2 separate regions of the Homo sapiens genome follow, and region 2 is linked to region 1. A link means that fine-mapping ties the variant in region 1 to the expression of a gene that starts in the linked region. Tissue or cell type: gastroesophageal junction. Region 1 holds a variant in brackets; the other region holds the start of a gene. All regions are shown on one strand. Distances are from middle to middle.

The links. PIP is the estimated chance that this variant, and not a neighbour inherited with it, causes the effect.
Region 2: SEMA3B-AS1 starts here. The variant in region 1 is fine-mapped to the expression of SEMA3B-AS1 in gastroesophageal junction (GTEx, PIP above 0.99). The same link has a PIP of 0.9 or more in prostate.

The regions. Positions count from the first base shown.
Region 1 is chr3:49,672,056-49,676,655 of GRCh38, forward strand. It overlaps APEH (acylaminoacyl-peptide hydrolase), which reads left to right and starts at 2,296. Exons shown (of 22, transcript NM_001640.4): 1 at 2,296-2,358; 2 at 2,434-2,566; 3 at 3,128-3,254; 4 at 3,639-3,732; 5 at 3,836-3,911; 6 at 4,001-4,164; 7 at 4,323-4,460; 8 at 4,554-4,600. The coding sequence starts at 2,347. It also overlaps a transcript of BSN not described here. RefSeq lists a silencer at 1,981-2,590. The variant A/AC (reference allele first, on the strand shown) is at 1,942.
Region 2 is chr3:50,265,377-50,269,976 of GRCh38, forward strand. SEMA3B-AS1 (SEMA3B antisense RNA 1) reads right to left here and starts at 1,995. Exons shown (of 2, transcript NR_110702.1): 1 at 1,905-1,995; 2 at 1,265-1,511. SEMA3B (semaphorin 3B) reads left to right here and starts at 3,771. Exons shown (of 17, transcript NM_001290060.2): 1 at 3,771-3,973. The coding sequence starts at 3,865. RefSeq lists an enhancer at 1-126.

The DNA of each region.
Region 1 (4,600 bases):
GATAAACAGGAATCCCAGCTTCACCTCTGGCCCTCTCCCCAGAATTAACATTTTGATGCGTGTCCTTCTTTCCTGTTTGTTGTTCCAGTCTTCATTTTAAACAGAAGCCAGAAGGTGCAATATATCCTGTTTTCTAGCTTTCTGTTTATTTCCACGTTTATTTCAGGTACTTAAATGTTCGTCTTCCAGTGCTCAACCTCCAGAGAGATACACCATTAGTTCATAGCCAGTCTACCACACACAATCTAAGGAACAGGCACTATGTTCCCAGTGTTCCTATTATAAACAATGCTTGATGAACATCCTATTTTCCAATCTTTCCACCCAAATTGGTGGCTGGGGCCACTCATTCTACTCCTGTTTCTGGCCTTGATACAGTCCTGTACATACTGACAAATGCAGTGGCGTCAGAAAGTTGGGACTCTTTTTTTTTTTTTTTCTTGAGACGGAGTTTCACTCTTGTTGCCCAGGCTGGAGTGCAGTGGCATGATCTCGGCTCACTGCAACCTCCACTTCCCAGGTTCAAGCGATTCTCCTGCCTCAGCCTCCCGAGTAGCTGGGATTACAGGCGCGTGCCACCCAGCCCGGCTAATTTTTGTATTTTTAGTAGAGACAGGGTTTCTCCATGTTGGCCAAGCTGATCCCGAACTCCTGGCCTCAGGTGATCCACCCGCCTCAGCCTCCCAAAGTGCTAGGATTATAGGCGTGAGCCACCGCGCCTGGCACTTTTTTTTTTTTTTTTTTAAGATGGACTCTGGCTGTCGCCCAGGATGGAGTGCAGTGGCGCGATCTCGGCTCACTGCAAGCTCCGCCTCCCGGGTTCACACCATTCTCCTGCCTCAGCCTCCCGAGTAACTGGGACTACAGGCGCCTGCCACCATGCCCAGCTAATTTTTTGTATTTTTAGTAGAGACAGGGTTTCACCGTGTTAGCCAGGATGGTCTCGATCTCCTGACCTCGTGATCCGCCCGCCTCGGCCTTCCAAAGTGCAGGGATTACAGGCGTGAGCCACCGCGCCCGGCCGGCCGGGACTTTTTTTTTTTTTTTTTTTTTTTTTTTTACTTAACTAGTTATCTTGAGTAAGTAATGATGCGGCTGATGGGAAAGGGGAAGCTACAGGCCAGACAAGTGGACTCTCAATCACAAGCACGCCATGGAGCAGGGAGCCAGGGCCCTGAATGTGGAAGACCAGCCAGACTCAGGTATATGGAGGGAACATCCTTACTGTCCAGCCTCTCCTGATCTCTGTTGGCACCTTAGCCCAGCCAATCCTGTACCACGTGCACAGGGAACCTGCCTGCCTAGGTTTTTTCCACAGGAAGCTCCCTGGTCCTGGGTGGAGTCTGAGCCCACCAGGCCTTTCACACCCAAGAGCTCAGGGTGAGGCCTGGGGAGGAAGGCAGGGACCCACCAGCTCACGGTCCCCAACAAGGTGCCACTGAGAAGGCTGGGTAAAGGCTGCGGGGATAGATAGCTCTTGCGGCAGGCCTGGCGACTGATAAGTCCGGGCAGCACCCTAAGAGTTGGCACCCGCCCCTCTGCCCCGCACCCCAGGGCTTTGCTTCGCGCCCTCCGCCCGGACCCTGGCCCTTCTCTTCTTCGTCTGCGTGGAACTCCCTCCAGGGCAGGGCCTGGCACTGTGTAGTGAATGTCGGCCTCGTGGTGGACCCGAAGGAACCCTACAGTCAGCCCCAGAGCCGCGGGAGATCCACGCTGCGGCCGGCTCCGCCCCGCCCAACCCTCACCCTCACGCTCACGCTCACGCTCACGCTCACGCTCACGCTCACAGGCTCCCGGCTCCACATTCCTCGCAGGGCTCCAATCCGGACCCGCCCGCCTTGCCCTTCATCCTCAAAGACTCATTGGTCCCATTCCCCTCGGGCCCCGCCCTTCGCGTGCTTGGGCCATGCCCGTCCGACCGCGCTGCTTCCGCCTTGCAGC[A/AC]CCCCCTCAACCCCTTCTCTCGTAGGCCCTTCTACCCTCCCCGAAGCCGGGCTCCCGGGTTCCGCTTCCACAGGGCCGCCCCCTCTCCTCCGAGATCCAACGCCTCGCCCCTCGGTAAGAGGCCCAGGACTCAGCCCACGGCCCCGCCCCCCACTTGGCTAGTCCGCCCCTGGCGAGACCCCTGCTCTCACCCACCCAGGACTTCTCGCTCCCAGGCCGGGTCCTCTCACCGTCAAGGCCCGCCCCCTGCCAACGGTCCTCACCCATTAGCCGAAGGCCCCGCCCCTCACAGATTGCCGCAGGGCAGGGGCGGAGACAGCCCGGGCCGTCCCAGGCTCCGCCCCCGGAAGCCTCACTTCCGGGCGCGAGCACGCCCCGCCTCGCCCCGGCGGCAGAGAGGAGACTATGGAACGTCAGGTGAGGGCTCGGCCCGCGGTCCCCGTGGTCCCTGCAGCCCGGGCCGGGCCTGACCCTGGTGTGTCCCCTGCGCAGGTGCTGCTGAGCGAGCCCGAGGAGGCGGCGGCTCTGTATCGGGGCCTTAGCCGCCAGCCCGCGCTGAGCGCCGCCTGCCTGGGCCCGGAGGTCACCACGCAGTACGGCGGCCAATACCGGACGGTGCACACTGGTGTGTGTGCGAAGGGGAACTGGCTGGCGACGGGGTCGCGCACTGGGGTGGGAAGGAAGGGGGTGTGGAGGGCTCGCTGCTTGACAGTGCGTAAGGGTATATAGGGAGCCGGCCTGGACTTGGAGGTTACACTCCCACAGGTCCCTGCACACAGGTGTGTGGAGGGGGGGAGGGGGCGTGCGGGGCGTTATCGAATGGCGGCCATGAGTGCACGAGATGACGGCGTAGGGGTAGAAGTCAAACCTGGGCTCAGGGCGTGGACCTTGTAGGGCTCTCCACCAACACGCCATCCCATACACATGCCAGGCTGCCCTCAAGATTCCAGGGTGGATGCTGGGGTTACTAGGGGGTTCTCTCAAAGAGGCTGTCAGCTCAGGCTCTGGAGGCCTGGACTAGGGTTGTGGCCAAGTGTTGTCCAGCCTGCAGCCAGGGTGTCAGTGTCTGGAGACAGATTGAGAGATTGGGGAAGATAGATCTAGGCCTTCCTGGGTCAGGTGGGGCTGGGGGCAGTAGCCAGGAGTAGCCAAGACAAGGTGAGCAGTCTCATGCCTCCCCTCACAGAGTGGACCCAGAGGGACCTGGAACGCATGGAGAACATTCGATTCTGCCGCCAATACCTGGTGTTCCATGACGGGGACTCAGTGGTGTTTGCAGGACCTGCAGGCAACAGTGTGGAGACCCGGGGGGAGTAAGTTTGAGGGAGGAAGCTTGTGGGCAAGGCCACAGCCGTCCGCAATGCAAGCCTTTTATGAATGCTCACCATGTGCCTAGAAGGGAGGCCAGCAGCCAGGTTCTTGCCCCCTTGGGAGCTCATTCAGTTTCTGGTGACATGGCCTGATAAGCACTGGAAGCTTGCTCCAAACTCAGCCTGGACTAGAGCCCATGGTGGCCTGGGGAGTTGCAGAGAGTAGAGTCTCTGCCTCAGGGAGGAAAGGCAAGGTGGGGCTAGAGGTGCTCCAGAAGCTGGTGTGGGGCCAGAGCCTCAAGAATCTCTCCTAAGAGGTGTGCCCAGTAGGGAGCAGGAAGGGGTTATTGCAAGATAATCCTGACCTGTGCTACCCCATGTCCACAGACTGCTGAGCAGAGAGTCTCCTTCAGGCACCATGAAAGCTGTGCTGCGCAAGGCTGGAGGCACGGGCCCTGGGGAAGAGAAGCAGTTCCTGGAGGTGAGTCTGCATGGGACCAGGTAGTGGGTGACAAGAGAGAGGCTCTGCCCCACAGATAAGGCTCTGTTAGCGGGCAAACAGCCTAATGCCCAGATGTCCTCAGGTCTGGGAGAAGAACCGGAAGCTCAAGAGCTTCAACCTGTCAGCGCTGGAGAAACATGGGCCTGTTTATGAGGATGGTGAGGCATCTGGCTGGTGAGCAGGCAGGGTGGACAGGAGGGGTAGCCGTAGCCCTGGGCCCCCCCTGATTGGCCCTCCCTGCACCCAGACTGCTTTGGCTGCCTGTCCTGGTCGCACTCGGAGACACACTTGTTGTATGTGGCAGAGAAGAAGCGCCCCAAGGCCGAGTCCTTCTTTCAGACCAAAGCCTTGGACGTCAGTGCCAGCGATGATGAGATAGCCAGGCTGAAGAAGCCAGACCAAGCCATCAAGGTGCTCGTGGTCAATCCACGAAGGCCCGGCAGGGCAGCCCTGGGGCTCAGTGTGCTCCCTTCCCATACTGTGCCTGTCAGACCTGGGGAGGCACTAGCTTTTAGGAAGCAGAGCAGGTCCTATAGACAGGCTGGGCATTGAGTATCTTGTGTTCTCAGGGGGATCAGTTTGTGTTTTATGAAGACTGGGGAGAAAACATGGTTTCCAAAAGCATCCCTGTGCTCTGCGTGCTGGATGTCGAGAGTGGCAACATCTCTGTGCTTGAGGGGGTCCCTGAGAATGTGTCCCCTGGACAGGTCAGCAGCAACAGCCTGTGTCCCCCCTGGAGTCTGGGACCCTTCTTGAGCTACCACCCCTTGCTCACTCCTGCCCTTTGATCCTGTTTACAGGCATTTTGGGCCCCTGGAGATGCTGGTGTGGTGTTTGTGGGCTGGTG
Region 2 (4,600 bases), 590 kb after region 1:
TTGCCACAACCTTCCTCAGATGGGTGTCCCACCCCAACCACACCACCCGGAGTCCAGGCAGGGGCAAAGGGGCAGGCCCAGCTGGTGGCCAGGGGTGGGGAGGCAGGTGCTGAGATTTGGCACAACAATCCAGGTTTTTCCAGAAGGAAAAGCCAAGGCCGTGGTAGGCCATGCCACTGACAGGCAGCCCCAGAGCAAGGACCCAGGCAGGTCTCTGCCCATGGAAGCTCCCTCAAAAGAGAGAGGTCCAGGGTAGGAGTACAGGCAGGAAAAGGGACCCCAGCTGCCTTGCCTGGTTTGCCCCATTCTGTTGAGACTCAGGCTCAGGCTGCCTGATTCCAGAATCCTCGAGGAGTTCCAGCCCCCAGTGTGACCCACAGGCAGTGACCTTGCTCCTGGAGTGCTGACCTCCATGGGGGCCCCTACCCATGGCCTGGCACACTGGACCTGGGGCTGAGGAACAGAAAGGGGACCATGTGGAATCAGGGACAACTTGACCTCCCATCCCTGGAGACCTCCATTCCTACTCAAGGGAGGGTACACATCTAGAGGACAGAGGACAGGGCACAGCACTCAATGGGGACAGAGACAGTCTAGTCCTTTTGGCTGGGGGTTGACTCCCAGGCTATTGGAAAGATAATGGCGGTGGCGGGGGGGTTTCTGATACCGTTTCCCAGAGTGAACACAGGTGGAGGAAGGTGCGGGGTGATGAAACAGAGACAGGGCCCCTGGGCCTGGAAAAACATAAGGCAGTGAGGGCCTATGGGGGCACAGTGGGAGTGGATGGGAGCCTCTGAGGCACTTGCTGATCCTGGCTGCTTGGGTGGAAAGCTGTAAACAGCCAAAGAATGTTGTCTGCTTGCATGGAGCCAGGAGAGCCTGCCCAGGTCCTCTAAGGCTAGAGGCAGCTACTCCTGGAGTAGGAAAAGGCCACATCCAGGAAGCCCACGAGCCCAGGCAGGGATCTGTCCTTCCACTTGCCCTCCTGAAGGGCCCTGCGGCTCCCACTGGCCCCTGTTATTTACCTGCCAGCTGGCCAGGCCAGGCCAGGTATACCAGGTCCTCAGGCTCAGGAAGGAGGGGCATAGCCCCACTTCCACTTCCAGGGGACTTGGAGATGTGCCCCCCACCTCTGTCCTTGCTTGGCTGGAGGCATCCAGGGCTGGGCAACAGAACTGCAACACTTGAAATGCCCACACTGCCCCATCAGCCTTGGGAGGTGGTAGGAAAATGCCTTTTGCGGGGATGGAAGGATCAAAGCCCATTCTCAAGCCCTGGTATATTCACTCAGGTGGACTTCAGGGCTCCACTCTGCCACTGTCAACATACAGTCCCTCCAGAGAAGTACCCCTCATGTTACAAATGGGGCACGTTCACCAGACTCAGCTTCAGGACAAGACCCCAGGTCATTCCCAACTGAGGCTCCGAGGTGCAGGAGCTCCGTCCTGTCTGTAAAACTCCCTCAGTTTTCGGCTCTGGGTTTGGTGGGGGTTGTTCCTCCCACCTCCAACCTAGAAAGAGAAGCCAGAGGAAGGGAGGTCACATGGTCTGCCCCCCAACCTCTCAGCAGAGATGCAAAGCTACCTGTCCAGGATGGCGGACTCCAGATGGGCCCCGCCCTGTGGTGCAGAAGTGAGATTTGCTGCTCCTCCTGCGTCTGCCCCTCTCCTGCCCTCCTCTCCCTCCCCTATCTGGCTGTCATGGTAGAAGCCACTGCTGGCCAGGCCACTGAAGTACTAAGTGGCCCAAGTGTTGAGGAAGGATGGGGACTGGGTCCTGAGGGCCCATCCGACCTCCAGTTGAGAGCCCCTCCCCTGACCTCCAGCTGCCCGGCCACCCCAGCCGGTCCCTGGGAACTGAGGTGGCAGCTGAGCTCCCCATTATCTTTCCCCACAGCTCCCCACCTGTGGAGGGAGAGGTTGAGATATTGGAGTCCACGGGTGGTGCCCCCACTCAGTGATTCCCTTTGCCTGCTGAGCCCCTGGAGCTGGGGTTTCTTCCTCCCTTGCCTTGGCTGGCCACCTGGCTTCTGGGACCGCCACCTGGGGCACCCTTCTGCTTTAAGGCCCAATATGGGAGGGGTCGTCCCTACCAGCCCCTCCCTTGTGCCCATTCCACTCCCGCCTGGCTGCCGTCTCCAGCTGGTCCCGGCTGCCTGCCCGGTCACCCGATCCGCCCTCTAAACTTTACGGCACGGCGGGCGGTGCGTGGGGCGGTGGCTGGCCTGGTGGGGGCGGGGGCTGCTTCTTAAAGGAGCCGTCAGAGGGTCCCCAGCGGCCCCAGGGTGGGAAGGGGCCAGAGTGGAGAGATGCTGCTGCGGAAGTCCTCGGTGGAGTGTGAGAAGGCAGCCAGTGTTGGCCTGGAAGACCTCTAGAACCTGAGAAGAGGCAGCGGCAAGTGTCAGCGGAGGGAAGGAGGGAGGTGGGGGTCCTGGCCTGGGATGGGGCCAGGAGCTGGGCAGGAGTGTGGGTGGAGGGGCCTGGAACCTGCCTCAGCAGCTGCTCCACTTGCTTAATCCCACCTGGAACCTTGTCCCACTCCCTGGGCTCCTGTGTCCAGCACCTGCCCAGCTGACCCCTGGGAAGGAGGGTGGGCATAGCAGCCAGGTCTTTGCCCCAGCTGAGGGCCAGGGGGAGGTGTCTGGCTCCTAGAGTGAAGGGGCTCAAAGATGGGGAAGAACTCAAGGGGTGAGAGAAGTGAAGGGAGAGGCTCAGAGAGGCTGTGGAGGCGTTGAGAGGGAAGGCCAGCTCAGCGAGGCCAGGAGGCTGGGGTGCAAATGAAGGGCTGCCTCACCTTGCCCCTCTTTGATTCCTCAGGGGTGTGGAGAGAGAGCCCTCAAGCTCAAATGCAGAGGCTGCTTCAGCTGGGTTGGGAGCAGTCCCCAAGTCAGAGGCTGAGGCTTCTGCCCAGGTCTTGGGTCTCCTGGGTAGCACTTCTCCCTCTGAGGAATGGAGTGATTGATGCTGCAGTTGGATTTGCTCACTTGCATGCCCAGAGACATGTCTATTCTTATGGGTGCACACGTTTGCACATGCACAAATGTGCAACACATCTGTGTGCAAAATATGCACATATCACACATATGTACTGCATGGATTGCACAGTGCCACATGTGTGTGCACACCAACCCATATCCACACATGTGCAATATGACACACTATATATTTGCACATAGATGTGCACACACATGCACATACACACTACACACATGCGCACATCACAAGGGGACACTCGGAAACACATTCACAGGCACCCACACCCTTGGCTCCAGCCTCAAAAGTGTCTCTGTGTTTTTCTGCGGGACTGTGGGGACACTGCCACCTCCAGAGGCCTGACCCCCTCCTGTCACTCTCACTCTTTTGACTGGCTTGTTTTGCTCATTGCACTTGGCACCCTCTGCATCCATCTGATTCCTTGTTGGCACTCTGTCCCCTTTCACATGGGGACCTTGTCTATGTCTCCCAGTATCCCTCCTCCCAGGTCTAGGCTGGCATGAAGTGGGTGGCACATTGTGAATTAATGTCTGTGAGTGTGTATACAAGAGAGGAGATTACTGGGAAGGGTGACGTGGTGAGGCGGGCTTGCCAGTGCAGGGTGACCCTGAGGGTGTGCCCAGTGGCGTGGGTGTGTCTGTGATTGTGGCCAGGCGGGGCACCCTCGGAGGGGAGGGTTCGGAAGTGGAATGCGACCCCCCAGCCTCTTTCCCCTAGGGGCTGTAATCTGATCCCTGGGGACTCCCCCCCTAGCCTCCCGCCCTCGCCCTCACTGCTGACTCCTCTTCCAGATCCTGGGGCAGAGTCCAGGGCAGCTCAAGGCTCCTCCACACACACACCCGCTGAACCCTGAGCACCCTGAGCTGCTGAGATGGGGCGGGCCGGGGCTGCCGCCGTGATCCCGGGCCTGGCCCTGCTCTGGGCAGTGGGGCTGGGGAGTGCCGCCCCCAGCCCCCCACGCCTTCGGCTCTCCTTCCAAGGTAGGTGCACCTGGCAGGCGGGAGGGCCCAGCTTGAGGTGGGCAGGAAAGGGTCCCCGTATGGCCAGGGGGCTCTGTGTTGGCTGTTGCCCCATGTGCGTGCCTGTCACCAGACTCTGGTAGGATTAGTGGGCACTCTCAGGCCACCTCCAGTTAACCCTGTCCGGGCCTCAGCCCCCAGCCTCTGCCCACATTCTCTTCGTGCTTTCTCAGGAAGACCCCTCCTGTCCCCACAGCAACAGACCTTGTCTCTGTTCCGTTCAGTACCCCCAACAAGGCGATACTCCTTCAGCAGAGCAACAGGGAAGTCAGAGCCCCCTTCTCATGCCTCCTGTATAGGAGGGTGGCCCCTGGGCAGTGGCAGTGAATAGGCAGTTCTGCTGAGCTCAGGCTGGTGGTGGAGTGGCAGGAAAGGAACTCTCAGCCTGACTTTTGGGAGTTGGGGTTCTGGCCATCCCTGCATGCCAGTCTCCCCCAGGACTCTGGTGTCCATAAGCCTTGCCTCCCAGTGCGCCCGCCTGGAGACACCACCTGTCTGAGCATGCCCAAGTTCAACCTGCCTTCCTCTTCCTGGGGGGATGTACCACCTACCCTGGCAGCTCCACACGTGCACCTGGGTGGGCTTGGG